Linked DNA regions of Homo sapiens: regions 1, 2 and 3 are each reported to be linked to region 4. Evidence: microRNA targets listed by miRTarBase, many of them from high-throughput screens and not tested one by one. Region 4 holds a microRNA gene; each other region holds the end of a gene's coding sequence.
What was found. The annotated mature microRNA hsa-miR-548ar-5p reads AAAAGUAAUUGCAGUUUUUGC and lies in region 4 at 1,988-2,008, opposite strand. An mRNA with a match to its seed (bases 2 to 7 or 8) in the 3' UTR can be bound and repressed. Matches are read on the target gene's strand: a 7mer-m8 pairs with bases 2 to 8, a 7mer-A1 pairs with bases 2 to 7 and ends in A, and an 8mer does both.

Region 1 (7,247 bases), not on the chromosome of region 4:
ATATCTATTGGTTAGATGGATTTATTCAGGTGGTTTTCCAGATTCCTGTAATTAGATTTATGATATCAAAAAAGTTTGGTCCAGGTATGATGACTCACACCTGTAATCCTAGCACTTTGGGAGATCAAAGCAGGAGGATCACTTGAGGCCAGAAGTTAGCCCAGTCTGGGAAACAGATACACCATCTCTCCAGAAAAATTTTTTTAATTATCCAGGAGTGGTAGCACATGCCTGTGGGCCCAGCTACTCAGGAGGCTGAAGCAGGAGGATCACTTGAGTCCAGGAATTGGAGGCTGCATTGAGCTATGATGGTGCCACTGCACTCTAGCCTCAGAGACAGAGTGAGACCTCGTCTCAAATAAACAAACAAACAAACAAACAAACGAATAAACATGAGTGGATCAAAAAGGTATCATAGACCAGGCATGGTGGCTCATGCCTGTAATTCCAGCACTTTGGGAAGCTGAGGCAGGCAGATCATTTGAGGCCAGGAATTTAAGACAAGCCTGTCTATACTAAAAATACAAAAATTAGCCGGGAGTGGTGGCACACACCTGTAGTCCCAGCAACTTGGGAGGCTGAGGTGGGAGCATCAATTAAGCTCAGTGGGTGGAGCTTGCAGCGAGCCAAGATCATGCCGCTGTACTCTAGCCCGGGCGGCAGAGCAAGACTCTGTCCAAAAAAACAAACAAACAAAAAAAAAGGCCCAGTGCGGTGGCTCACACCTGTAATCCCAGCACTTTGGGAGGCTGTGGCGGGATCACCTGAGGTCAGGAGTTGGAGACCAGCCTGGCCAACATGGTGAAACCGCGTCTCTACTAAAAATACAAAAATTAGCTGGGCATAATGACAGGTGCCTGTAATCCCAGCTACTCGGGAGGCTGAGGCAGGAGAATCGCTTGAACCTGGGAGGCGACGGTTGCAGTGAGCCAAAATCGCACCATTGCATTCCAGCCTGAGCGACAAGAGTGAGACTCCATCTCAAAAAAAAAAAAAAAAAAAAAAGTATCATAAAGTGCAATTAAACAGAACTGACCTAGTAATAGGTATCTTTTTAATCTTCTGGACTTATTTCAGTTTAAGAAATCATGCCAAATATATCTCATTTTTCTAGAACCAGGTTAATTTAACAGCAGCAGGCAGAACAATCAGAGAGTTGAAAAATATTAATAAGCCAAATTTTTAAAAAAATTGTGGATGCAGCTCTAGAATATCAGGCACACCTAGCAAAGGGGTCAAGGAGATGCAGTAGTTTCAAGTATTGTTGCAGTTTCTTGTCACTCCAACTAACAAGCTTCCTGACTACTAATGGCTGAAACAAAAGTAGTTTTAATTTCAAAACCAGAAGTCTAGAGATAGGAGGTTGCTAATCTAATTAAGCAACTCAAGAATGTTAAAATGGGTGCCTGCACTTTTTATCTTTCTGTTCTGCTATCTTCACTGTCTTGACAGTGTCTCCCCTCATGGTTGAAGGATGGCTGTTGTGGCTCCAAGCATCACATCCTATCACCCCAAAAGGAGTAAAGAGGGAAGGAAAAAGAGTTCTCTTTATGGGCTGAGTTAGGCCTCAAAAGTCTCGTCCCAGCTGGGGGAGAAGCATAAAGAACCCCTTGGCGTCAGATTAAGTTTGCTTTTACTTATATTTACTCCTGAAGCAGCTAATAGGACTCGGATGTGGATGGGTGGAGGTGGTTTCCCATTGCCTCCCTTGCCCCTCAGGGAGAGAGGGTCCTGAAGTTCAGTGGTCTTGGCAGCCCACACAGGGTGCACATCTGAAGAACAGTATCTTGGGTCAGCTGCATTTTATAACCCCAGCCACCTCGGTGCACACAGAAAACCTAAAATACCAGTAAGACAATAAGTCTGCCACTTAGCCAGCTGTGTGCTCGGATCTAATGACTTAGTTTGGAGCCTTGAAAATCTTGTAGGGCCTGCCCCAGGACCATCACCCTCTTTCTGTAGAGGCTAGGAATTCACTCTTTATGTTTAGTTATCTCTTTATGTCTGAAAGTTTAAGAGGCAGTTGAGGGGGGACAAGGAGCAAGGGCTTTGGCCATGAGGAACACTGTACGCAAAGGCATGGTGGTGTGACGTGGCGTGGTCTGTTCAGGCACTGCTGGCAACTAGGAGTGCCTGAAGCATGTCACACGGCCTGAGGAGAGAGTGGGAGGAAGTGAGACTGGAGAGGGAGCAGCAGCTGATGGGATGCACCAGACGCAGGAGTGCAGACTTCAAGGAGGTAAACCATGCACTCTGGGAGCCCAGAGGAGGCATGACTGAGCCAAGAAGGGTTTCCAGAAGCCTTGGACCTGGATCCAAGATCCAATGTTCAGCCAGAACTTGGAGGTACAGTGGTATAGATTAGTTATGCCTGTGCCATTCCAGTTGTTAAATATTGTGAATTTACACCCCTGCTCTAGAGGAGTTGGTGAGGAATTGTCAGGCAGAAAGGTGGGAATGGGCTTTCCGGGAAGAGTGGAGAGCTGGTATAAGAGTAATCCAAGAAGGGAGAGATGAGAATACAAGGGAAGGATGAGGCCAGGGTGGTAGAGGGCCTGACTGTGAAAGGTCTGTGGCAGACAAAGAGGTTTCTCCTCCATCCTGTAGGCCTTGGGAAAACAGGGTGGACTCTATCTCATCAACCCAGTGATCCACCTGCAAAACAATAACCCTGAGTCAGCCCTAGGACTTGGCACCCTGTCACCTGTTAGGGAGCAGGGCATTTGAGAATGTAGAGGGCTGATGGTGAGAACAAAGACTTCGGAGAAATAATTTTGCCGTTTTATTTCTTTTTAAAAAAGAAAGAGAAAAAAGGGAGGGAGGGAAGGAAGGAAGAAAGAAGGAAGGAAGGGAAAAGAGAAAAGGAAGAGTAGAAACCAATATGGCATTTGGTAAGGCTGAGTAGTGGACACAGAGATTATCACTGTTGTTACTGATTTGTTACATGCTTCCCCACTTTGCTTAAAATATTTCATTTAAAAAATGAATGTGTCACACCTGTAATCTCAGCACTTTGGGAGGCCAAGGCTGGTAAACCACTTGAGGCCAACAGTTAGAGACCAGCCTGGCCGACATAGCGAAACCCTGTCTCTGCTAAAAATACAAAAATTAGTTGGGCCTGGTGGCAGGCGCCTGTAATCCCAGCTACTTGGGAGGCTGAGCTGTAATCCCAGCTACTTGAACCCAAAGGTGGAGGTTGCAGTGAGCTGAGATCACGCCACTGCAATCCAAGCTGGGCAACAGAGCGAGACTCTGTCTCAAAAGAAAAAAAAAGAATATGTCAGGTGTACTGTACATTTAAACAGACATATAGACATATGGTCCTTCTACAAAACTATTTGACAAGATATCAAAAGTCCTAAAAATGCTTCTTTTGACCCAGCAATTCCATGCTAGAACATACAGACAAAGATCTATGTACGGGAAGCCTACATTGCTTCAAGTATAGTGACAACTGCGTGGGAGGGTGGGGAAGTTGTGCTAAATTAACTTCCCAAATAAATAAAATGAGCAATTTTAATGAAATCTTCCCTAAATACATGGTGCCTGTGCTGGTACAATAAGTAGAGTACTGTGGACACAACTAACCTTTTTTTTTTTTTTATAATTTTTGATTAATGTAATTAACTATCAAAGTACATGTTAATAGATTCACCAATCCTAAAAGCTGTTGGGGTGGCCCTTTGCACCTCCCCACTTTCTGCTACATAGCTTGTTTCTCTGGCTCTTTTGGTTCTCGTTTCCTTTAGTTGGCTGTTATTTCTTGCTACTCTCACCTGCACACTCACTAGAAATCTTGCCTTCCCCCATCTAATCAGAACTTTAAAACATAAAAATAAAAAACCCAGGTAGCCAAGTTTGAACGCATCATGTCTGAAGTAAATCATGTCTGAACGAAGTCCTGGAGGTCTGTCTCCAACCACCTGAGGAACCTGTTGAAATGCTTTTCCCCAGGACCCAACTCAACATGTCCTCATAAGACTCTGGATCACACAGACACTTAATTTGTATGAATGTTAGAATTTGAGAACCTCTGGCTTATGAATTCTCATATGACAAAATATCCCTTGAATTCAAGGCTATGTCAGGCCAACACGTCACCTCTGGTGCAGCTGAGCTGCTGCCCAAAGCTGGAGTGGCTCAGGAGTCAGCCATGATGGGCTGGTTCCTGTGCCATGCCAGGTGGGAAAATCACAGAGACTTGGTGATCTCTGTTTTGGGGGCTTTTTTGAGACAGGGTCTCGAGAGCTCTGTCATCCAGGCTACAGTGCCATGGCACAGTCATGGCTCACTGCAGCCTTGACCTCATGGGCTTAAGCCATCCTCTCACCTCAGCCTCCCCAGTAGCTGTGACCACAGGTGCACATTACCACACCCAGCTAATTTTTTGATTTTTTGTAGAGACATGGTCTCGCTATGTTGCTTAGGCTGGCCTCAAACTCCTGGTCTCAAGCAATTCTCCTGCCTCGGCCTCCCAAAGTTCTGGGGTTACAGGCATGAGCCATCGTAGACTGGTTCGACCTCTATTTGGAACTGAGATCACTTGGGCAGGTGGAGGGTTAGATGAGGAGAGAGGTACTTCTGGGCTCCTCTATCTTGGGGTTGGCTGAGGTTTCCGATCAGTGGCCCTTGGATGATTGAGGCCAACCTGGATTCATGATGTGGGGAGAAATAGGGTAACTGTCTCATATTTTCCAAGTGTGAGACTGTCTTCACAGACTGATTAACTTCCACAACAAAATAAAATCATGCAGCCTATTTACCAGAGATCAATTAAATTGGCCACACTCTTTTTATAACTTATTCCCATTGGACTGAACATTTAATAGTTTATATTATACTCAGCTAAATTTCAATATAATCTACCACCCCCACTTTTACCTAGTACTTTTATCAAAATGATCGCTTGTACTTGAGTTTGATATGTTTACTTAAAAGCTTTTTTATGTCATTTAACGAATAGTCATTGAAATGTTGTCATCCAAATAAAAAAACAGTTTTAAAGCCGTATATATGTCTACTGCTTCTTCCCTTTAAAGAAAAGTTTCGCAGATTTTATCTTGCATTTTAAATTAAGCCTCCACTTTTCTTGGATATGCTGATGGTCAAACTATGAAACCTGTAACTGAAGAACACGTGCTAAAAGGATCATAGAGCATGTTATCCTTACATAACATACTTAGAGGCATGTAACATACTTCGACGCATGTATTATTACAGCCTCAAACACCACCACCACCACAACAAAACAACCACTCCAGAATGAAAATACTGGTATATTTGTATAATGCAAAGAGAAATACAGATATAAATCCTCAAAACGGAAGGTACATTAATAAAAATGTAGCATTATAAGCCAAAAATATTATATAGTACTTGCAGAATTTAGTCTTTCAGTTTAACATTATAATGTCTAACAAAGAAATATTATTTAAATTATAGTTCTCATTATTAATTTAAAACAACCATCAGTAGAACAGCACAGCTTAACCTAGCAAACATTTTAAGGAAATGCTTTGTTTCCTAGAAGGAGGATATCATTATATTCCATTCATTTATACCATAAACAACAGAAGAACAATTTTCAAAGTGGAAATTAGTTTCATAAGACAGAATAAAACTGGGCTTCTCAAAGCACAAGCCATTTCCATAAAATTAATTTTTTATTGGCAAAAAATACTTAAAACAATTTTGATGTAGTACTCTGCTTCTCAGAGCCCTCCCAATCCTCGAACCACAATCTATACACACGAACACATGCAATACTGTATTTTTCTCCACATCATTACTAACCAAAACACTTTACTCTTTTAAAACTTACAACTTGACAGAAATGTTTCCATTCAAGATTGCTATAATACAGAGAGCAGTTGTCACTGACGTGGTTTTTAGCAGCAGAAAGTAAACCGGGAACCAAATCTTACTTGTTACTTACTGCTTTAAAAAAATGACTGCCTTGCTACTGATCTCCATCTCTGCTCTTTAAGTTCAATATCAACACTGAGACTTTCAAAGAACCAGCGCAGCACAAGGACCCTGCAGCCGGCAATTCAGAGGGCATTTCGGACAACTTCCCCCCACCCCCCACTTTCTCCTGCTTCCAACAGAAGATCCTCAAGAAATCTAACTTGTGAAGAAGTCCCCCTAGGTTCCTCTACTTCACTGCAAAATGTAATGCCACTTGAGGTTGTCAAAAATAGCTTCTGTAGAAAACTGGCCATGGTCTTTAGGAAACGTTGCATGAAGAAAATTAGTACAGCCTTTATAGAAAAAGAAAAAAAGGAACCACACATGGAATAAAAGACGTCAGTACCGCTACAAAAAGACTGCAGGGCCTATTGTCAGGAAGAAAGTCGAGTTAGGAGGACGAATGTGCGGAGCTGGAGTGGGCTGAGCATCCTACTCCTCACCCACCCCACCCCCAAAGGAGTCAGTACAATCCAAGTGTCTGTCCACTTCGAGTCATTTTGAAGGCAGCTTAGAAAATTAAACAGGGGCCAGAAGGAAAAGATACAACGTCACCGTCCGAGCCAAAGGGAAAGGCTGGGTTGGGGGTCTATGTGGCGGGGCCTCCCTCATAAACCAATGCCTTTCAGGTCGCAGGGATGGGTCGCCTGGGTGGTCCGGGGGCTCTGGCAGCAGGGGAACTGGGCCCTGAAGCAGTCCCTCAGCTCCCTGTTGAAGAGGAAGCACACGACGGGGTTGATGCCGGCCTGCGCGAAGGTCAGCCACACGGAGGCCGTCAGGTAGGCCTGGGGGACGGCGCCGGGCCGCACCAGGACCCGCAGGTAGCTGGCCACGACGTAGGGCCCCCAGAGGAGCAGGAAGAGCAGCGTGACGGCGTAGAACATCTTGCACAGCCTCTTCTCCGTCTTGAATTCTTCCAGCACGAGGAGGCGGCGCGCGCCGCGGCCCGGCCCTGCGGGCCGGATGCCCACAAGCGCGGGCGGCGTGGGCCCGCGGCCGAAGCCCGCCGTCCAGTTGGCGGCCGCCTGGCCGGTGGCGCCCGGGCCGTGGAAGGTCCAGTCGTGGCTGACGGCGGGCACCAGGCGCGCGGGCCGCATCTTGCGGCGGTCGTGGATGAAGAAGAGCAGGCGGAGGTAGACGAGGTGCGTGGCGCCCACCACCACGGCCAGCAGCAGCAGGAAGCCCAGCGCGCCGGGGGCGCCGTCGGGCCGCTGCTCCAGGGCGCACGGCGCGTCCTCGTCGTCGCCACCGCCGTCCAGCACTGGCGGGAAGGCCGCGGC
Region 2 (7,247 bases), not on the chromosome of region 4:
GTGAGCCGAGATCACACCACTGCACTCCAGCCTGGGTGACAGAGCAAGACTCCATCTCAAAAACAAAACAAAACAAAACAAAACAAAACAAAACAAAACAAAAAAAGACTCTTGACTGAAGTTTTCAGAAAGCAAATCCAGTCCTTTCTTCCAAGACCAAGCTCTTTAAATAATGTGTGTAAAATACTTGGCAGAATGCCGGACACAGCAGACTTGAAAGTGTCAGCTCCTTTTCTCCTTCCCCTCTATTCTTTTCACTATTCACAATAGTTTAAATATTCCTCTAGATCTTAACAGAATTGATATTTTCACTTTTAACAATGAAATAAGCTTTTTATCATTAAGATGTGTCAAAAGGTAAGCTGTAGTTACAGAGAAGTAACTAAGCTAATTGGAAATAAACTTAGAAAGATAAACTATATAATCCTTGTTAGTGACAAATTTTAAAGAAATTAGTCTTGCCAGGATTAAATTAAGGAATTGGTTTTATACTTTGTAACATTCCTACAAAAGACACATCGAGTGCCCCAAAGTTTGACCCTAATCGTGTTGCAGAAAGCAGGGACATTTAATTTCTAGTAGAAAAAGCCCCAGCAAACTTCTTTAATTAGATTTTGAACTAAAGAGAAGAGGCTCATGGGTCCTCCCTATTCTCACAGTAATTTCCTCACACTTTAATGTTTTCATGGGCTCTGACTGTTTAATCTACTAACAATAACTATTCCAATGTTATTCTAGGGAGCTCTGTTGTTGAGCGAGAAGACGTACCAGCCCATTTGGTGAAAGACATTCGTAACTATTTTCAAGTGAGCCCGGAGTACTTCTCCATGCTTCTAGTCGGAAAAGACGGAAATGTCAAATCCTGGTATCCTTCCCCAATGTGGTCCATGGTGATTGTGTACGATTTAATTGATTCGATGCAACTTCGGAGACAGGAAATGGCGATTCAGCAGTCACTGGGGATGCGCTGCCCAGAAGATGAGTATGCAGGCTATGGTTACCATAGTTACCACCAAGGATACCAGGATGGTTACCAGGATGACTACCGTCATCATGAGAGTTATCACCATGGATACCCTTACTGAGCAGAAATATGTAACCTTAGACTCAGCCAGTTTCCTCTGCAGCTGCTAAAACTACATGTGGCCAGCTCCATTCTTCCACACTGCGTACTACATTTCCTGCCTTTTTCTTTCAGTGTTTTTCTAAGACTAAATAAATAGCAAACTTTCACCTATTCATGAGTTATTATTGAAACCTCAAATCATAAAGACATTTAAAAGAATTGTTTTTCTAACTGGAGGGGCTCTAGTGCTAAATAATAGTACTGAAAATTGATATTATTTTCCTTTTCTTATATGAAGGACCTTATTTGGCATATAAAATTTTATAAAATATGTATTTAAAGCTTTTTCTTATTTTTTGTATTAATTGGTAAGTGAAAACTCTGTTAAAGATCACACCACAATGTTTTCAAGAAACATCTGAAAAGATAAAACAAAGAACAAATAACTTATAATACTTACTTAAATTGACACTTTTTGAAATGCCAGTCTGAAAATAATTAAGATATCTCTGCTTTGTATGAGTTTCTTTTATGAAACTTGATACCACGGGAGTCCAGTAATATTGGCCACAAAAGCCAGAGAAAGTACCAAGCCCAGCTTTGTTATCATAGCCACTTCCTGCCCTGCTTCTGTTATTTTTAGTGTTTTTTCAGATATAAATCGGGGTCCAGGAAATCCTCACCAGAATCTGGCACTGCAGCCAAAGGCGATACTTCCAGAGTTCTAGTAGGCTGCTATGGAATTTCTGGCATGAAAATTCTTGACCCCTCACACTTTACCCCCTGTACAGCACAGGCATACCATGGAGATATTACAGGATCAGTTCCAGACCACCATAATAAAGTGGATATCGCAATAAAGTGAGTCACACAAAATTTTTGGTTTCTCAGTGCATATAAAAGTTATGTTTACACTCTTTAGTAGTCTATTAAGTGTATAATAGCTTTATGTCCAAAAAATGTACATGTTTTATTTTAAAAATACTTTATTGCTAAAAATTGCTAATGATCATAATCTTTTTGCATTGATGTTGATGGCTGCTGAATGATCAGGGTGGTGGTTACTGAAGGTTGGGGGTGATGGTGGCAATTTCTTAAAATAAGACAGCAATGAAGTTTGCCACTTCGATTGACTTTTTCTTCATGAAAGATTTCTCTGCAGCATGTGATGCTGTATGATAGCATTTTACCAGTAGTACAACTTCTTTTGAAATTGGAGCCAATCCTCTCAAACCCTGTTGCTGCTTTATTAATGAAATTTATGTAATGTTGTAAATCCTTTGTTGTCATTTCAATAATGTACATAGCAACTTACGCGAGTAGATTCCATCTCAAGAAATCACTTTCTTCGTTCATTCATAAGAAGCAAGTCTTCATCTATTAAACTTTTGTAATGAGATTGCAGCAATTCAGTCACATCTTCAGGCTCCACTTCTAATTCCAGTTCTCTTGCTATTTCCACTATGTCTATAGCAGAGCTTCCTCCAATGAAGTCTTGGGCCTCTTAAAATCATCCATGAGGGATGGAATCAGTTTCCGAACTCATTGATCTTCCTATTTTGACCTTCTCCCATGAATCACGATGTTCTTAACAGCATCTAGAATGGTGAATCCTTTCCAGGTTTTTAATTTGCTTTGCCCAGATCCATTAGCGGGATCACAATCTGTGACAGTTATAGTCTTACGAAAAGTGCAAATGACTCCTTGATTCCTGTGCTGCACAATAGGTATTGTGTTAGCAGGCACGAAAATATTAATCTCCTTGTATATCTCTATCCAAGTTCTTGGGTGACTGGGTATATTGTCAGTGAACAGCTATATATATATATATTATAGTGGTCTGGAACTGATCATTTATATATATATTTTATATACATATATAAAATATATAATATATATTATATATATATATATTTTTTTCGAGATGGAGTCTCGCTCTGTCACCCAGGCTGGAGTGCAGTGGTGCGATCTTGGCTCACTGCAACCTCTGCCTCCGGGGTTCAAGTGATTCTCCTGCCTCAGACCCCTGAGTAGCTGGATTTACAGGCGCCCACCACTACACCCAGCTTATTTTTGTATTTTTAGTAGAGATGGGGTTTCACCATGTTAGTCAGGGTGGTCTCGAACTACTGACTTTGGCCTCGGCCTCCCAAAGTGCTGGGATTACAGGCATGAGCCACTGCGCCCGGCCCGAACAGCAATATTTTTAAAAGATTCTTTTTTTTTCTGAGCAGTAAGACTCAAAAAGTGAGCTTAAAATGTCCAGTAAACCATGCTGTCCATAGACATGCTGTCATTCAGGCTTTGTTGCTCCATTTATAGAGCACAGGCAGATTAGATTTAGCATAATTCTGAAAAGTCGTAGGATTTGGGGAAATGGTAAATGAGCATTGATTTCAACTTAAAATCACCAGCTGCGTTAACTTCTAACAAGGAGTAAGCCTGTTGGTTGAAGCTTTGAAGTGAGGCATTGACTACTCCTCTCTAGATACGTAAGTCTGAGATGGCATCTTCTTCCAATATAAGGCTGTTTCATCTCTTTTGAAAATCTATTGTTTAGTGTAGCCACTTTCATTAATTATCTTAACTAGATCTTCTGGATAACTTACTGCAGCTTCTACATCAACATTTGCTGCTTTACTTTGCACTTTTATGGATGCACAAGGCTTCTTTTCTTCAAACTCATGAACCAGACTCTGCTACCTTCAAACTTTTTTTCTGAAGCTTCCTCACCTCCCTTTAGCTTTCATAGAATTGAAGAGAGTTAGGGCCTTGCTCTGAACTAGGCTTTGGCTTAAGGGAATTTTGTGGCTGGCTTGATCTTCTATTCAGATGACTCAAAGTTTCTCCATATCAGCAGTAAGGCTGTTTTACTTTTTTATCATTCATGCATTCACAAAGTAGCACTTTTAATTTCCTTCAAGAACTTTTCCTTTGCATTTACAACTTGGTTGTTTGGCATAAGAGGCTTAGCTTTCAGCCTGTCTCAGCTTTTGACACACCTTCCTCACTAAGCTTATTCATTTCTAGCTTTTGATTTAAAGTGAAAGATTGCAACTTCCTCTCACTTGAAATACCTGGAGGCTATTTTAGGGTTATTAATTGATCTACTTTCAATATTGTGTCTCAGGGACTAAGGAGGCCTGAGAAGAAGGAGAAAGATTGGAGAAAGGTTGGTTGTTGGAGCAATCAGAACATACACACATTTATTAAGTTTACTGTGTTATATAAGTGTGGTTCATGGTGCCCCCAGTAATTATAATAGCAACATCAAAGATCGTTGACTACAGATTTTAATAACAGAGATAATAATGAAACAGTGTGAAATATGGCAAGAATTACCAAAATGTGACACAGAGACATAAAGTGAGTACATACTATTGCAAAAATGATGTCAACAGACTTCCTTGATGCAGGGTTGCCACAAACCTTCAATTTGTAAAAAATGCAGTATCTGAGAAGTATAATAAAATAAGATGTGCCTGTACTTACTTGCTAATGGACCTATTACCATACTGGCATCTTATAAAAAAAATTACAAGGAAGGAGATTATATCCAGGGATTCTTTTTGTTTTCAAGGCAAAGGTTACCAAGTTACAATGGACCAAAGTAGCTGGAATGCAAAGGAGTATAATCCTTGTCTTTGAAAAAAGAGCATTTGTTTCAATCATATGGCATATCAAAGTAAACTTTCTCCCTTCCTCCCTCCTTTCGTTGCTGCTGCTTCTTTTTTTTCTCTTTTTTTTTTTCTTTTTTTGGAGAGGGTCTCACTCTGTCACCCAGGCTGCAGTGCAGTAGTGCAATCTTGGCTCACTGCAAACTCAGCTTCCCTCAAACAATCCTCCCACCTCAGCATCCCAAGTTAGCTGGGACCACAGCCATGCTCCACCATGCCCAGCCATCCTTGCTTCTTTACTACATTTCTTTTTTCAACAAATATTTATCAAGTAATATTGTCAAGTAATATTTATGAGCTTCCCCTCAGATAGGCATTTAGCATCATGATGGCACCATCCTCTAACAATAATGGGAAGGCTATTTTCCACTGTTATTAATCATTAATTCTCCAAATCATTTTAGTATTATTATTAATTCTAATAAGTACAGAGATTAATAAATGCATTCAAACCACATGTGAATATTTGCTATAGGTTTATCTGTGCCTACTGTATGTTCAGATTTTTCTTTATATCTGAACTTTGTTATAAATAAATGACAGTAAAAATGGAATTTATAGTTCAATGAACTTGACAAATCACTTATTCTGCCATTCATTTTCCATAAAGACCATTCATTCTTCCTTGTTTTACAGGTAACTGAGCTCCAGAAAGCTCAAGTGACTTTAGAACTCAGTTCTTAGTGTGTGAATTATGCTCCCATCTCATCCCTCTTCCTTGATGGAGCACTTTCCTCCTCATTTTTTCTTGGATAGTCTGTACAAGCTGCCTGAGGTGTGCAGGAAAGTGAGCCACGTCGAAGTGTACTGCTTTTAAATTTTTGCCAGGATGAAGCATAGCCCAAAGTTGCCAATAAAAATGGATTTCTTTACCTTTCTGAAATTGTGTGATGACAATTTCTAAGTAAAGGACCCAAATCATGTCAACTTCAGGAAATATAATAATGAGGGAGCCAGGAGCAGTGAGGGGCTCACACCTGTAATCCCAGCACTTTGGGAGGCCAAGGTGAGCGGGTCGCTTGAGCCCAGGACTTCGAGACCAGCCTGGGCAACACGGCAAAACCCTGTCTCTACAAAAAAATACAAAAAATTAGCTGGGTAAGGTGGTGTGTGTCTGTGGTCCCAGCTATTCAGGAGGCTGAAGTGAGAGAATCGCTTGAGCCTAGGAGGTCGAGGCTTCAGTGTGCCGTGATCGTGCCACAGCACTCCATCATCATCATCCTGGGTGACAAAGTGAGACCCTGTCTCCCCACCAAAAAAAAGAGGGAGTTTCATCTCCCAAGAAAATGAATTAGATAGGAATAATAGAAAATTTACTCTCAGAATAATAGGGTTCTAGCTCCTGCAACCAAAAAAAGATAGTTCTTTTTTACAACCTGAGATTACTTTTTCAAGCATTTCTCCAGTTCCACTGGCATTGAAATAATAGTTAGCAATGCATCTGAGCTTTTCTTCCTCTAATGAGCAGGCAGAGAAGTCATAGATCATCATTTGGAGGACTATAAAATAAGACATAGCTTAGCAAAAGGACCAAAATACATTCAGAGGAGGATGCTATTGGTGAATGTCCTCAAAGCCTATAATCTGGAAAAATACAAGGCATATCTCTGAAACTGTGAGGATTAGCAAACTAGCTAACCTGAATCTCTGTCTTCTGGTAGTATAAACTAGGTAGTTTCAAATCTGAGTAGTTTCTCCATAAAAGCATTTCTTCCCAAACGTTTCTTACCAAACTCCCAAATAAATGAGAAAAATAAAATACAGTTTTATAATTTTTGAGAAAGATTATGGGATTATGGTATTTAAAAAGAAAAGCATTCTGTAGAGTTGGGGAAATCTGGAAGACTCTTGAGGACATAGCTTTGCCGAAATTGCTGGTTGTCACAAGACTCTTCAAAAACTACTTTTCATCAGACATCTCCCAGGGCTCTGAGGTGAATATTAATTCAGCAGAAAGATCCTTTTCTGCTACATAGGCAGGAGGTCCAGACACAGGGGAGTGGGTGCAACCCAGCTGGTCCCATTTTCTGTAATATAATTAACAATGAAGCTCATACTTTCTCAACTTCTAGAAGCCTGGAGGATGGAAGCAGCCCGAGAGTAGGGTGAATGATGGCCTCAGTGGGCCCTTCTTAATGTGTCTCAGTACTGAATGTGTGGAGATTGTAGAAAAATAGAAGGCCCTTGGAAAAAACCTCTGTTCGTTTCTCTGTTCGTTTCGCTCCCTGATCTCCCTGCCGGATTGCTTTTCTTTCCTTTCTCTTCCTTGGCTGTCCTTTACCTCATGGTGTGGGGTGTGCAGATAGCAGGTTGTGGCTTGGTGAGTGCTCTTCACTTCAGGTCAAGGTGAGGCACAGTTAACATGCTAACTACTTTCCTCAGTTCTCTCTGAGTTGTGTAAAGCTCCCGATGCCAGACTTCCTCTTAATTTTGCACATTATTAAAGTCCAAAGAGTTAAGATTTGGTGATGAGGGGCAAAGGGCCAGCTGTCACAGAAATCAAT
Region 3 (7,000 bases), not on the chromosome of region 4:
CTCGAGCAGGATTTTGTAAGAATCACAGTAAATGGATTAGCTGAATCCAATCAAATTATTTAGGAACCTGGGAGGTAGGGAGTAGCCATGCCTATGGGTGGGAGACAGAATCAAAACAGATTTTAGTATCATGTAATGGTATAACTTTAACCCAGAAAAAAAAGATTCAAAACCAACCCCTCTGAAGGAAATGAACCTGAAGCTTTCTGTTTTCACTGTGATTATAAAAAGGGCTGTTTTTTCATTTGGTGCTTAGAAAGAATTGTCCCAGACATAAGCAGCTCCAGCAAGAGTTCAGCACTTCTTTCCATCATACAAGTTCTGTTCTTTCCCAGGGCTGCCCTTGTGTCTGGTTATCTCTCTTCCTGCAAGGACTGCAAAGACTGGATGCATGTTAGATTGGGAATCAGTTAAAGACACAGGATTTAATCTGCCATACTGGGGAAGGTCTCAAACCTGTCACATGGCTTCATGGTATTACGGAAAAAGGACGGACTTTGATGTCAAAAAGTTCTACAGTCACTGGGAGCTGCGGTGGCTCAGGCCTGTTGCCCTGGCACATAAGGAGGCGAGGCTACGTGTTTGAGGCCAACCTGGGCAACATAAAAACCTCTCATCCATTCAAAGAAAAAGAAAAAAGAAAAAAAAAGTTCTACAGTGAAATCCCTGCATTGTGTGCTTTAGGCAAACCACTTGAGCTTTCTGAGCCTTTTGGGAGCCTTGTCTGGACTTGGTCTCTACTGTCCTAAGTACTCACAGTGGAGCTAGGCTTCCCTGCATTCACCATCCTACTGTCTAAAGAACAGGAAGAGAGACAAACGAGATAAGCTCTGACCAAGTGGGCAGTACTTTCTCCTAGAGATAGGTCAGTCACTTTCCATTTCCTAAAACTGGGCTTTCACCATTCACACTGGGAAATATCTGTGATATACTCAGGCCCTGCATCTGGTTCCCTCTGGCCACGTGATGAAACCAACATCAGAGCTTTCCAGGAAACAAGGCTGGTCATCAGGTTGCAGAAAACAAGCAGATAAATACTTGACCGTCTCAAATCTCTGCCTCCAAAGATCACCGATAAAAATGAGCCAGCTCTCTTATTTCAAGAAAGCTTGGGTCTTTGGCTTAGAAATCAGAAGACAGGCGGCTGGGTCCGCGGTGGCTCATGCCTGTTATCCCAGAACTTTGGGAGGCTAAGGCGGGCCGATTGCCTGAGGCCAGGAATTCGAGACCAGCCTGGTAAACATGGCGAACCCTGTCTCTACTAAAAACACAAAAACTAGCCAGGCGTGGTGGTACACGCCTGTAATTCCAGCTACTCAGTAGGCTGAGGCACATGAACTACATGAATCCAGGAGGCAGAGATTGCAGTAAACCAAGATTGCACCACTGCACTCCAGCCTGGGCAACAAAGCGAGACTGTTTCCAAAAAATAAAAATAGAGTAGGAGCTAGACCAGCAAAGGGGTAAGAGCATATTCCAGATAGGGGGCTCCCAACTATGGGCAAAAACATAAAGGAAGCTCAGTGCTCTTGGCAGAAAAGTTCAAAGTAAAGGGTGGAAGGTTACAAATTAAAGAGGCCAGGTCATGGAGACTGTTAGATGTTACATTTAATGGCTTGGACTTGATCTTTTAACTCAGTGGCTGACAAGCAAGCTGCAGTATACTGATGTGTTATGAATCCACTATAAGCATACTGCCAAAGCTTGACCAGAATGTAAAAAAAAAAAAAAAAAAAAAAAAATATATATATATATATATATATATATATATATATATATATATATATATATATATATAAAGCTAGAATGAACCAGCAAGTAGGCAAAAGGCATAGCATAATATCAGGCCACAAATATTATATGTTTAGCAAAACATTGAAGATCTTTGCTTTATAGCTATGTAAAAACATGTCATTGGGTTAAGATTTCATCTCTGCCATGGCTGGAAAATAAATTAGGGGACAGATTCTCATGTTGGTTTGTCCAGTTTTCCCCTCAAGTACAGATGCTGGTGAGGGAGCTTTTTCTTTCTTCCACATTACTACCACTTCCACTTGTTCTGGGCCATTTAAGAGGTTCACATGGGGTAATCCACATACAGTAAAGCAAAGCTTCAAGATCCAGGCTGCTTTCACTGCTGCTGTGTGGCCTGCAAGCAGCTGACAAAGGCCTCCAGGAGTGTGGGTGGAGAGGAACTTGGTGTGATGAGATACTGGGGAGGGGGGAAGGGCAGCTAGAAAAACAAAATGTCTCAATTTACCTCCAAATTTTTCCTCCTAAAGCAGCAAATCATTTTAATCCAACAGTATACCACTGAGGTGAACAGTGATAAAGCAAATGATACAAAGATCACAGAAACTTTTAGCTGCCAAGGAACATCATACCGGCATACCAACTCACTGTAATATTGCTGGCCTGGTAGTTGCTGGTGTGTCATCAGGATAGGTCCCGATCGACCAGTTAACCGACCCTTGTTCTAGTCTCACTATCTCTGAGATAGAGTATTTGGAGGCGGCTGCTTTACCCTGGGGACGTAAGGGTGATAAATGAGTCCGTGCTCAAGGTTCATGTCCTCTATGCTGTAGTAACACTGTATTTTTTTTTTTTTCCGAGACAAGAGTCTCGCTCTGTTGCCCAGGCTGGAGTGCAATGGCGCAATCTCGTCTCACGGTAACCTCCGCCTCCTGGGTTCAAGCAATTCTCCCACCTCAGCCTCCTGAGTAGCTGGGATTACAGGCGTGAGCCCGGCCAATAACACTGTATTATACTGACTGATGACATTCACCCAGTTCAGATGAGGTGGTCCACAGCCTATAATCCAGACTAACCTATCTGCAAAACTATTCCAATCTAATGGAAAAGAGTAGACTTCAAGGATGGCAGTTGTGCTTTCTGAGGGGTCCTTATACCTACTCATCCCACCCTACCAATCTACATGCCCGAGAAGGTAAGTGATGAGTCAGCCTGGTGCATTCAGTTCCACAGTAAAGAAGCAGGATCATCTAAGTATCCAATTTCCTTATGATAAGGCAGGGAAAAACCATCCCTTTTTTTCATTAGAATCCAAACTATGATAAAGGAGACAGAAAGACACCAGCAAATTGAGCAAAATGTTTACATTTATATTGAAATATACACTAAAACAGAATGAGTTCTACTAGTCAATGAAACTTTGCCAAAGCAAAATCACAAACTTCCAATGGGGAGGTCCAGTCAGCTAGCAGCAGTGATCCCCAAGCAGGAACACCAAGAAACCTGGGGGACCCCTCTCCAAAAAGCCTCCTTTCAAGAGGCCCTAACTCACTTCTCCCACATGCACCCACACGGATTTAGGAGCTTGGACATGCTCCTCATTTCCATATATTTTTAGTTTCTTCTTCACTGCAATAAATATAAAGTTGGCAATGCTCATACACCACAGCACAGACAATATTTCAGGCTTTAGCATACAATTGTAAACAGTGACTAGGTTAAAAAAATAAAATAAAGTAAGTTGGACTTTTTTTTTTTTTTTTTTTTTAAACAGACAAAATTCCTAAGAGCCGGGCATGAGCTACTCAAGATTTGTTTTGTTGGGTTAAGGTTTCTGACAAAAGATTCTGGTTTAGGCAGATGCCCCTGACAGTTCAAGTAGCCTCACGGTGGTAGCCAGAGCGCTGTCTACGGCGACCGAGAACACATGGACTGGAAGACAGCCTGCCCTAGATCACCCGTGGCAGTACATCTTCAAGCTGCCACATTCAACATATGACCACAGACATCTTTATAGTTCCATCACTGGCTGCCATCTAGTATAGCAGGAATGCGTGGGCGAAGGAATACAAATTTGCTGGGAGAGGAAGAGAATAGTATCTCTGCTAGCTGCCTGGAAAGTTGGCCCCTTAATCACAATGACAACTAGGACATTTCACTTGGACAGTGCATTAAATTTATAGATTTTTTAAAAAGTACAAAGACTAAGCAGTAAGTTCTGTCACTGACGCAAACTAGGATGTCAAAGAAAAATAGATTAACTATTTTTACCTAAAGTAGTGCAAAGAAATCTGGCAAAAAATGAAAGTGAACTCAATATCTGCACATCAGTAATGGGGCAGAATTTTATTTAAAAGGCTAGTGGTTCAAATACTATTGCTTGAATAGCTCTGGTAGATATAAAATGTAGTAACATCTGAGGTTTGTACACATGAGCAAAGGAGCTGAGGGCCAGCTCACAAAGGGATATTTGATCCTCAGTCAAGAGAGAAGCTAAAAGCGCATGCTGCAGGAGTAACCTAATGGATTTATTTGGACCATACTCCCACCTTCTGACAAACAGAAAAAGACGTGGATAGAAAACTGTCTTTCCACACACAAAAATCTGGCTTAATTCTTCTTGCTATACAACTATACCTCAGCTAAGAAAAAAATCTCTTGTGAAAAACTCAACCTGGGCTACTAAAAATAAAAAGGAAATTTTTAATGTCGTAAACAAGTTTAGTAAACACCATGTGGATTTTCTGTTGTTAATGAAGACATGATACATTCAAAAAAGTATGTATTTTTTAAAAAGAACAAAACCAAAAAATTTTCTAGAAAGAGACTTCACAAGAAAAAAATGAGCCCAAGGTTCATCCCTCAATCAGAAATCGGTCTTAGCACGCATCAGTAAGCCCTCCTCCAACATACAAAAGCACTGAAATTTGCCTTTCAAGTACGTTACTGAATTTAAACATTAAGCGGAATCACTGCAGAGCATATTTTGATGGGTTACTTCAATACCCACCTGGTCCAGTTCAAAATATCTATAGATCCAGTTTGTACATATTCCACAGGTATACTGATAAAATCATCTATTATCCCATTTTTTTTAATGGCAGTTCTTATATAGCTCGAACATTAAGATCAACAAATTCTCAGATGAAGTACATTAATAAGACACCTCAGAAGTGAAACAAACCTAGTTTTTACTAAAATGATGGGATAAAGGTAGTGTCTATGCTGAAGAGCAGCTTCACTTGTTTCCCCACAGAAAAAGGCCCAAAATTTTTGGAGGATAATTTAAAAACTAAGCCAATAAGGCCAGGCACGGTGGCTCATGCCTGTAATCCCAGCACTTTGGGAGGCCAAGGCGGGCAGATCACCTGAGGTCAGGAGTTCGAGACCAGCCTGGTTAACATGGCGAAATCCCGTCTCTAATAAAAATATAAAAATTAGCCGGGCATGGTGGCATGCACCTGTAATCCCAGCTACTCAGGAAGCTGAGGCAGGAGAATCATTTGAACTCGGGAGGTGGAGGCTGCAGTGAGCCAAGATCACACCATTGCACCCCAGCCTGGGCAACAGTGAAACTCCATCTCAAACAAAACAAAACAAAAAACAACTAAGCCAATAAAAAAAATAAAATATACACCTTAAGATATTATAAAACTTGAAATAATGTCAGGTGCTATGGAATGGGAAACAAGAGTTCTGAATCCCCCCACCCCCAAAAAAAACTGTTAACAGGTTTTAAGGGAAAAACAAAACCAGAACTCCGAATATGAACAGCAATACACAGAATCTATAGCACAGAACACCACACAAGAATGAGTTTTATAGCAGTACTATCATGAGAGTAACTGGCTGGAGACTATACTTCCAGCAACAGGGCTCCTAGGTCAAAAATGTGTTAAAAGCTTGTAATGTCAACAAGAACCAAAAAAAAAAAAAAAAAAAAAAAAACGGGGTGGCGGGGGGAATGAAGGGGAAAGGGGGGCATGAAGGGGAATAAGGAGGAAAGGCTGCATGCACGGGTCTATTATAGACATGATATTCAGCAGCATAAAAAATAATACCCTCCAAAGAATCCCTCTACTGGGGCAAAACCTGTTTTTCACTGCTAAGCATGGAAAAGATTAAGAAAGCAGAACAAATTCACTTCTAACTATAGCATCTTCCATATATCAATGACAAGCATGTTCAACCTGATGCTACATGTTAATAAAATATTCAGTATACATAAGAATCTAAGCAACATAAAAACAAAAGGCTAAATTATGAACCTTAAAAAAATTGGAGAAAACATGTTTTAAAGCCAAGTAGAATGATTCTGATAATTATTATATATGACATAATCCACAGAAAGGCCAAGAAAAGAATCTTCATATTGTTCAGTATTTAGGCTTGATGTTGTCCCAAGAAAACAGTGATAATAATTCAATGAATGTGTTACACATACAACTAAAAAGTCCCCTTCTGGTTTCAAATGAATTTAAACAACAATCTTCCTTGGCTAATTTTTCTCCTCTGTCAAACAAACCTTCTATGTACAGGACCAGTTTAAATCCCTCCTCCCCTTCAAACACTAGATATGAACATCCAGGAACATTCTACAATGCAAAGTGCCTTAAGAAAGAGAAGGATTCTGTAGTGCCAGTGATAGAACTGATCTGAGGAAGCTGAGATGCTATTAACACTGATAAGAGCCAGTCAGGCAATGGTGGTTTGTTTCTCCTCAGGTGTTTCCTCCAACAACTGCATGATCAGTTCATGCAGGGGTTTGCAGATCTTTGCATAGCCCCCTCCTGTCAGATGCAGAAAATCAAACATGTCGTGGCAGGAGATGGCACCGTCCGAGTGCACAAAACCCCCGTCGGTATCCAGGAGCTGCACGTTGGCAAGCTTCGGCAGCGAAACCTTGAGGAGTTGGTTCACCTTGGCGTTCTTTTGCCTCAAAGGATTGGGTTTCTCACCTCGAGGTAACAAACCCTGGGGCACAGTGGAAAACATTAAATTAGAAGATTCACTTATTTTTCTCTACTTATTATTTATAACTTCAGATATTCCTGGAACATCTCCATTTGGCACTTTCTACACCTTTGAGTTGTGAAACATTGGAAAATACTGTTTTGAATGAAAGCTAACCATTTCTTCTTAGTTTTTTCATGGGTTCCCTTCCTCCTGTCCCTTAACTGTTGGTATTCTTCAAGGACCTGTCCTCTGGCCCACTACTCTAAATACTTTAGCCAGATCTCTTCCTAGA
Region 4 (7,000 bases):
TCCTTAAAGACGCAGTCCCTGATTCCATTTTCCATTCCTAGTTCTCCATTCCGATCCATGACAGTTTGGAATCAGTACACAATTCAACAGGTTGTCTTACATGTGCAATGTGAGAAAGCTGCCAAACAATTATCCACATTTCTTAGGAAAGGGAGGCGTGACTGTCATGGTCAGTATTTTATATTGCTATACGCTAAGTATTTTAAAATAAGCATGTATAACTTCTATAATCAGAAAAAAGGGTTTAAAAACCTTTTTGCTTTGGTATAATTAAAAAATACCTTCATGGGTTGAAAAGTTAATGCTGCTTTTGTAAGTACAATAAACACTAGGAGATTCTGTTGCAACACTTTAATAAAACATCATTTGCTTGAACTTAAGCTATTGTCTAAATACGAGTTAAGCATTTTCTTAAAGTACAGGTAAAAAAAAAAAAACTAAGACTAAAAGTTATATTACTTACAGGATTACTAGGATATAAATCCACCAGTTTATGAGAAAGATAGAAAAGTTCTGTTCAGGAAAAAGCAGAAAAAGAACAATTGTTCGTATCACATGTAATTTAAGACATGATTTCATTACAACTCTTCACAATCATATAATTCTGCTCTTACAGCAATGATTTCATACTTGTCTTTCCTTCTAGATAAAAAATTAACTCTCTAACTGGAGAGTTAGATGAAGGACACACTGTGGGCAAGGTGGGAACAGACACCCCCTAAGACAGCACTTCCCGAATACTGCAGAGGATACAGCAAAGCACCTCACCTCTCTTAGAAGCTCATGCCTGTCACACCAAGGGCCCATTATGGACCATCATAATCACCCACAACCAATTTGGCTGAACAAACTTTCAAGTTTATCAGATCAATGATACTATTTAATCTTGAGAAATGTGTAAATCCTGGCATTTCAAGATGATGTTTCCTGCATGCAGACTTGGATTCAGTAGACCAGAGCAGCTGGAGATGCTGCATTTCCAACCAGCTTCCACAAATGCGATGTTGCTGGTCCACGAACCACACTCTGAGCAGCAGGGATTCGGTGAGGGTTTTCCTTCCTGACAGAGCTCACCATTCAGTTTAGAAAAATTTAAGGACAAATGCATCCCCAAACACAACTAAATGTCAAATGTTAAAAATACGGAAAACATGAGCAAACAATCTGCTCCTTTCCAATTTCTAAGTAGTTATCAACTCTTACCATATCAGATTTCCAGTGGAATTTACAAAAAAAAAAAAGGGGGGGGGAGGCAGAACTGACACCCAACAATTTAAAGCTAACAAACCTTGAAACATAAATGATATTTGAGAAAAGGTAGTAGGAAGCAGTGATAAAGAACTAATTGTTCTGATGGGAAAACAAAATTGGCCATTTGCTACTTTCCTAAACATTTCCTCCCCAGTTGTTACTTTTATAGTAGGGTTCCATTATGTTGTTACCTGCAATCTCAACTATCCAGAATTTCAGAGACAAAATTTCAAGTTACAGAAAAGATTTGTTTTATGTCTAAGAATTACTTTAATTTAAAAAAAAGTCTTACCATTGGCTTTATTCAGCTCTACAAGCGTCCCTATATGTACAGGTAAACAACTTGCATGGAAAGGATCTTTCTCCATTACTCTGAAAGTTAAAGCGACACATTACTACCCCCAAACCAGCAGGTGACAGCACTCACGACGATCGGCTATGTGTAGACAGTCATTATGGTATCACATATGATGCTGTGGGTTGTAACACTTCACTTTCTTCACTCCATTATCTTCAGGTTGATTCAGTTAAGGCCATAATTAAGTTACAAATGAAAGAAAAAATTCTGGTTTATTTGAAAGGAATAAAAATAAACATTATCACATACATTTACTTTAAGTCAACAGAATTGTAATACATAAAATAAGTAGGCCGCTTATTTAAAAGAATCAAAACCAACAGGAAATCCTATTAGGTTGGTGCAAAAATAACTGCAGTTTTACCACTACGTTCAACAGCAAAAACTGCAATTACTTTTGCACCAAACTAATAAATAGGTTATGTGTATTTGCCAATTAAAATTTTTGTAATTTCAAGGATTTTAAACCGAACCAAGATCTACAAAAAATAGCATATGTCATTTAGCTAAAGTTTAAATTAGGTACACTGGAAAACTGATACATGTGGGAGATGGCTTAGCTACTGCGTGCAGCATATTAAACACCTAGTATCTACAGTGTGAGTCTCATAATTGAGAATAAATTTTACAAAACAATGTGCCAAAATGGAATTTTCAAACTTGCAAATTATCAAGATCAGTAAGAGCAACATGTATATCCCTCCCAAGTTAATGTAATAAATCTACAAATATGCACAAATTCATGTCTGTAAATTGCTCTTTTAAGACAGCACCCTGTTCAGTGCTCTACAATTGGTAAAGATAACTTAAATTATCATCTAGTTCAAGATTATTCAGAGAGCACGTCCGTGAATCACCTAGGTAAGATGGAGTGAACTCCATGTTCCTACAGAAAAATGGATGGATATACTTACACAGAAGTAAGCTTGTAGCACATTTTAAAATCACAGTTATAATAATGTCTCTCAGCTAAAGACACTACCACATCCAGATTCTCTTGCAAGCCATCTACAGATTCAGGGATGACCGTTTCACTAGGCTTATTATACTGAAACACATAGAAATGTAAACATAAACTCAATGAGCAAAAACAAAATAAAATGTGGATTCAATTTGTGTTTGGCCCAAGTGGTTAAAACATTTACAAGAACAAATGTGAGAGCCTCTGAAAACTTATAACTTTAGGTTTTATAAGTACTCCTCTCAGTAAGTTTAATTCCCTTCTCAATTTTAGAACAGAATTCCACAGCGGGACGTATTTCTCAAAGTAAACATTCAGGAAGCATAACAAAAAAATCTTCATTTCCATGCAACACCATTCCATTTACATTTACTTGGTAATTCAATCTTTTAGTATAAGGAGTCTTTCAGAGGAAAAAGGTATTTTTGAAAGCTTTTTTTTTTTGGAATCTTATGTATCTTAAACGCTCTATTCTTAAAAATGTGCTAAATTTAAAAAGTTTTAATTTTGAAAACTTAATATAAGACTAGATGCCAAATTTTATGGAATAAGATATTTACATAAAGCAAGTGCTAACTCTTTGGTTTTACTTACTTTTTTCAATTTGTTCTCAAATAGAAAACGCAGCAATTCCTGTTCTTCATTACACAGCTTGCTAAGGGGTAGTGATTCAAGAAGTTCTTTTTCTTAAAAATGGTGAGAAAAAAAAGAATATCCTCATAATATTTATAGAGGGGAAAAAGCCAACAACTAAAAATATGATTCTACAGTTCTTGGTCTAAGTAAATCAAACTCAAAAGAGAACATAAGATCAAAATGTGCAACAGAAGCTGACACAGTGGCTCCAGGCCTGAAGACGGGAATCATCTGGTGGGTGGAGGCTACTCTTTCAGGGCTGAGGCAGGTCCCCAGGTGGCTCTTGTCACCTAAGAACCACCAGCCTCCGCACTCCTGACTGCGTGGATCTTGCTCTGCTGGGAACAGGGGAGCCTGTGTACTGCAGGTGCTAAGCAGGACCTCTGGCCACTAACCACTAGATACCAGCAGCAACCTCTCAACCTCCCTCCCTGCCCCTAAGCTGTGACAAACAACATCTCCAGACATTGCCAACTGTTCCCGGGGCAGGGGGCGGCAAAATCACTCTGGTTGGTTGAGAACCACTGCACTAGGCTAAAATATGTTAGAATCCCATTAATCCAACCACTCTATTTTCTGTTTCCCTTGTTGACGCACCTCACACCACTGCCAACATACTTGGACTGATTCTCAGTGCCTGTGGTACATTAGGATCACCTGGGAGCTTTAAAGCATCTGCTCTGGAGTTGGGAACTGGACATGGATGTTTCTCTGTCTTCCCAAGGATGTAAAGAGCAACACGGTTGAGAATCACTGCATGAGATACTGAAATCCTGGTTTATACTATCTCAATCACTTCTCAAAAAGATGGCCTCTTCCTATCACAATCCCTAGATTCGGACAGCACAAGGCACCGTACAATACTGCATTCTGCAACGTGCTTTACATTTGAAGACATTAAGAAAGTGAGTAGGTCTATTTAAACCTGTATGTGGCCTGTTGTTGACTTAGAAGATTTCAGAGGCAAAAAATCCAAACAATATTAATTTTGCTAAACATAAAACAAAAAAGCCTGAGTTTCCAAACCTTCTTGTGCTGTCAGCATGTGATGTGATGTTAAAAGATCGAACGCTTCAAAACAGTAGACATCAAGCTTCAAAGCTTCTTTGTAGCTGTAGGTAGCCAGGGTTCGGTTATCTAGAGCATCATAGATTTTCCCGCGTAGAAGACAGATAGAACTCTTTATCTGTTGGAAAAATGATGAGTCACATATTAAGTCAGTACTTTTAAACTTAACTTTTTTTTTTTCTCCTTAGAGGCAGAGTCTCACTCTGTCTCCCAGGCTGGAGTTCAGTGGTGCGATCATAGCTCACTGCAGCCTTGAACTCCTATGATCTCAAATGACCCTCCTGCCTCAGCCTCCTGAGTAGCTAGGATTACAGGTGCACAATACCACAAACAGTTAATTTTTTAAATTTTTTGTACAGACAATCTTGCTATGTTGCCTAGGCTGCTCTCAAACTCCTGGCCTCAAGTGATCCTCCCACTTTGGCCTCCCGAAGTGCTGAGATTACAGGCATGAGCAACCATGCCTGGCCCTTAAACTTAACTTTTGATAGAGAATTGTGTATTTGAATGCTGAGAAGTTTTTATTGCATTTAAAAGGATTTAGTCAATCACAACTGTCAAGGCATAAATAAAAACACACAAAAAATGCACAGCAAAGCTTCTTCAATTCACCTTCCCTGGGCTTCAACTGCTCTGTTCCAACACATCTTTATAACAAAAGTACATGTCACGGCTACTAGGTTCATTACCTGTTTTGTCCAAAACAGTGCAATGATTTAGAGATGGCAGAGTGTGTGTGCATGTGTATAAAACTCCAAGATTGACAGTGTGATAGGCAGACACCCCTCAAAAGGATCTTAATGAGCAGAAACTGGCAGCAATGCAGCAGAGTGGTCACAGCAGTCAGCACAATGGCCTGCTGAGGCAGCACAGACCTGAGTTCAAACCCCAGCTCTGCCAATTACTTGTAACCTCGGACAAGTGATTGAACCTCTCTTGGCCTCCATTTCCTATCCTCATCTGTAAAAAGATAAAAACACTATCTAACTTATAGAACTCTTTACTATCTAACTTATAGAAGTCTGTGAGGGCTAGAGATGCTACCATCTCTGTGGTGCTAGCACATAGTAAGGCGTTCAACAGCCATCTCACGACTACCATAAACACGAAGATGTGGAAATCTGATGCACATTCTAGACTCTGGACCTCGAACACATAACTGAATTTAAAGATGATCCAGCAACAGGCAGCTAGTATCATTAAGGATATGAAGAAGATTCATAAAGTAAAATTTTAGAAAAAATAATGAATTATGAGAGTCTTCGAACTAAGCAATATCCTAGGAGTTGTTTTTTAAAAATGTAATTTCACAAAATAAATAATAATGCGTTGCAAATAAATCACACATTTCATAGCAAATAAGTTAATGGATAAGAGGTCCCAAAATAATGACTGTACCACACACTTTCATAAATGCATTTCTTAACAGAAGAATCTGCTTCCCAACACATACATTAATGAGTGGCCAGAAAAAAAAACAAAAACAAAAACCTAGAATGTGTAATATTCTTTTATGCTTAAAAATAACTATCTAAGGTGAAAAGTCAAGTAATAAACTTCTACCAAAAATATAAATAAATGGGCCAGGTGCAGTGGCTCATGACTGTAATCCCAACACTTTGGGAAACTAAGGCAGGAGGATCACTTGAGCCCAGGAGTTTGAGACCATCCTGGGCAACACAGTGAGACCCTGTCTCTACAAAACATTTTTTAAAAAATTTAGCCAACTGTGCCGGGCACAGTGGCTCACACCTGTAATCCCAGCACTTTGGGAGGCCGAGGTGGGCAAACCACGAGGTCAGGAGATCGAGACCATCCTGGCTAACATGGTGAAACCCCGTCTCTACTAAAATAGCAAAAAATTAGCCGGGCATGGTGGCGGGCGCCTGTAGTCCCAGCTACTCGGGAGGCTGAGGTGGGAGAATCACTTGAGCTTGGGAGGTTGAGGCTGCAGTGAGCTGTGATTGTGCCACTGCACTCCAGCCTGGACAACAAAGCAAAGACCCTGTCTTAATTTAAAAAAAAAAGATGTGGGAAGAAAGAGAAATTGGTAGGTCAGGTAAGGCTTACAGGGATTCTTTCTGAATAATAAAAATATTCTAAAATTGACCATGGTGAGGTTTGCAAAGCTCTGTGAATACACTAAAAGGAATCAAACCATACAGTTTAAATGGGGGAACTGCATGGCATATAAATTATACCTCAATAAGTTTTTATTTTTTTTTTTAAATCCAGATTAGTGATCTGTAAATGTCACTTAATAAGTTACTATATGATGTCTGCCAGCAAGGAATGTGCAATTTCATGGAGATATGAAGTATACAAACTGAAATATACACAATTACATAGCAATGTACTTTGAAGCAAACAGAACACAAAACCATTTCCTGGAAAGAAACAATGTACGCTAATCAAAGTTTCTTGGTGTAGGTCCAAAACACTGCTGAAACACAGAAAGGAGAAGAAAAATTATTCCACTTTTAGGGAGTAGCTTAAGGCATCAAATATGAGAAGGAAGTTTCAAGCCAGCCTATTTTGGATGCAGGCATCTGCGGATACAATTACAGCTTGCAACTAAGGGCTCAGAAATGTCTCAGAATCTTTTTTGGTTTTGGTGGGCAAATTAAATAAATTGGCAACCACAATTGTTTTAATATAGTAATAAGTAAAAGAAGATAATGTGTTTCTGCCACGTAATGAGGGCAATTCTCGCCGCCGTTACTGAG

Region 1: miRTarBase lists GPR27 as a target of hsa-miR-548ar-5p. Seed matches in the 3' UTR shown: 7mer-m8 at 5,899-5,905.
Region 2: miRTarBase lists CCDC80 as a target of hsa-miR-548ar-5p. Seed matches in the 3' UTR shown: 7mer-A1 at 2,049-2,055, 7mer-m8 at 3,704-3,710, 7mer-m8 at 3,937-3,943 and 7mer-m8 at 6,126-6,132.
Region 3: miRTarBase lists PAFAH1B2 as a target of hsa-miR-548ar-5p. Seed matches in the 3' UTR shown: 7mer-A1 at 4,025-4,031 and 8mer at 3,485-3,492.

The regions. Positions count from the first base shown.
Region 1 is chr3:71,754,506-71,761,752 of GRCh38, reverse strand. It overlaps GPR27 (G protein-coupled receptor 27), which reads right to left. Exons shown (of 1, transcript NM_018971.3): 1 at 5,257-7,247. The coding sequence ends at 6,576. It also overlaps a transcript of EIF4E3 not described here. Among named protein-coding and RNA genes, the nearest start is that of GPR27, 4.3 kb to the right of the region's middle.
Region 2 is chr3:112,599,255-112,606,501 of GRCh38, reverse strand. CCDC80 (coiled-coil domain containing 80) reads left to right here. Exons shown (of 8, transcript NM_199511.3): 8 at 739-7,247. The coding sequence ends at 1,085. Among named protein-coding and RNA genes, the nearest start is that of CCDC80, 38 kb to the left of the region's middle. RefSeq lists an enhancer at 2,445-2,614.
Region 3 is chr11:117,167,147-117,174,146 of GRCh38, reverse strand. It overlaps PAFAH1B2 (platelet activating factor acetylhydrolase 1b catalytic subunit 2), which reads right to left. Exons shown (of 6, transcript NM_002572.4): 6 at 3,102-6,726. The coding sequence ends at 6,448. Among named protein-coding and RNA genes, the nearest start is that of SIDT2, 8.1 kb to the left of the region's middle.
Region 4 is chr13:114,239,513-114,246,512 of GRCh38, reverse strand. It overlaps MIR548AR (microRNA 548ar), which reads right to left and starts at 2,008; the gene lies at 1,952-2,008. CDC16 (cell division cycle 16) reads right to left here. Exons shown (of 18, transcript NM_001078645.3): 6 at 4,233-4,392; 7 at 3,165-3,256; 8 at 2,524-2,657; 9 at 1,544-1,623; 10 at 464-513.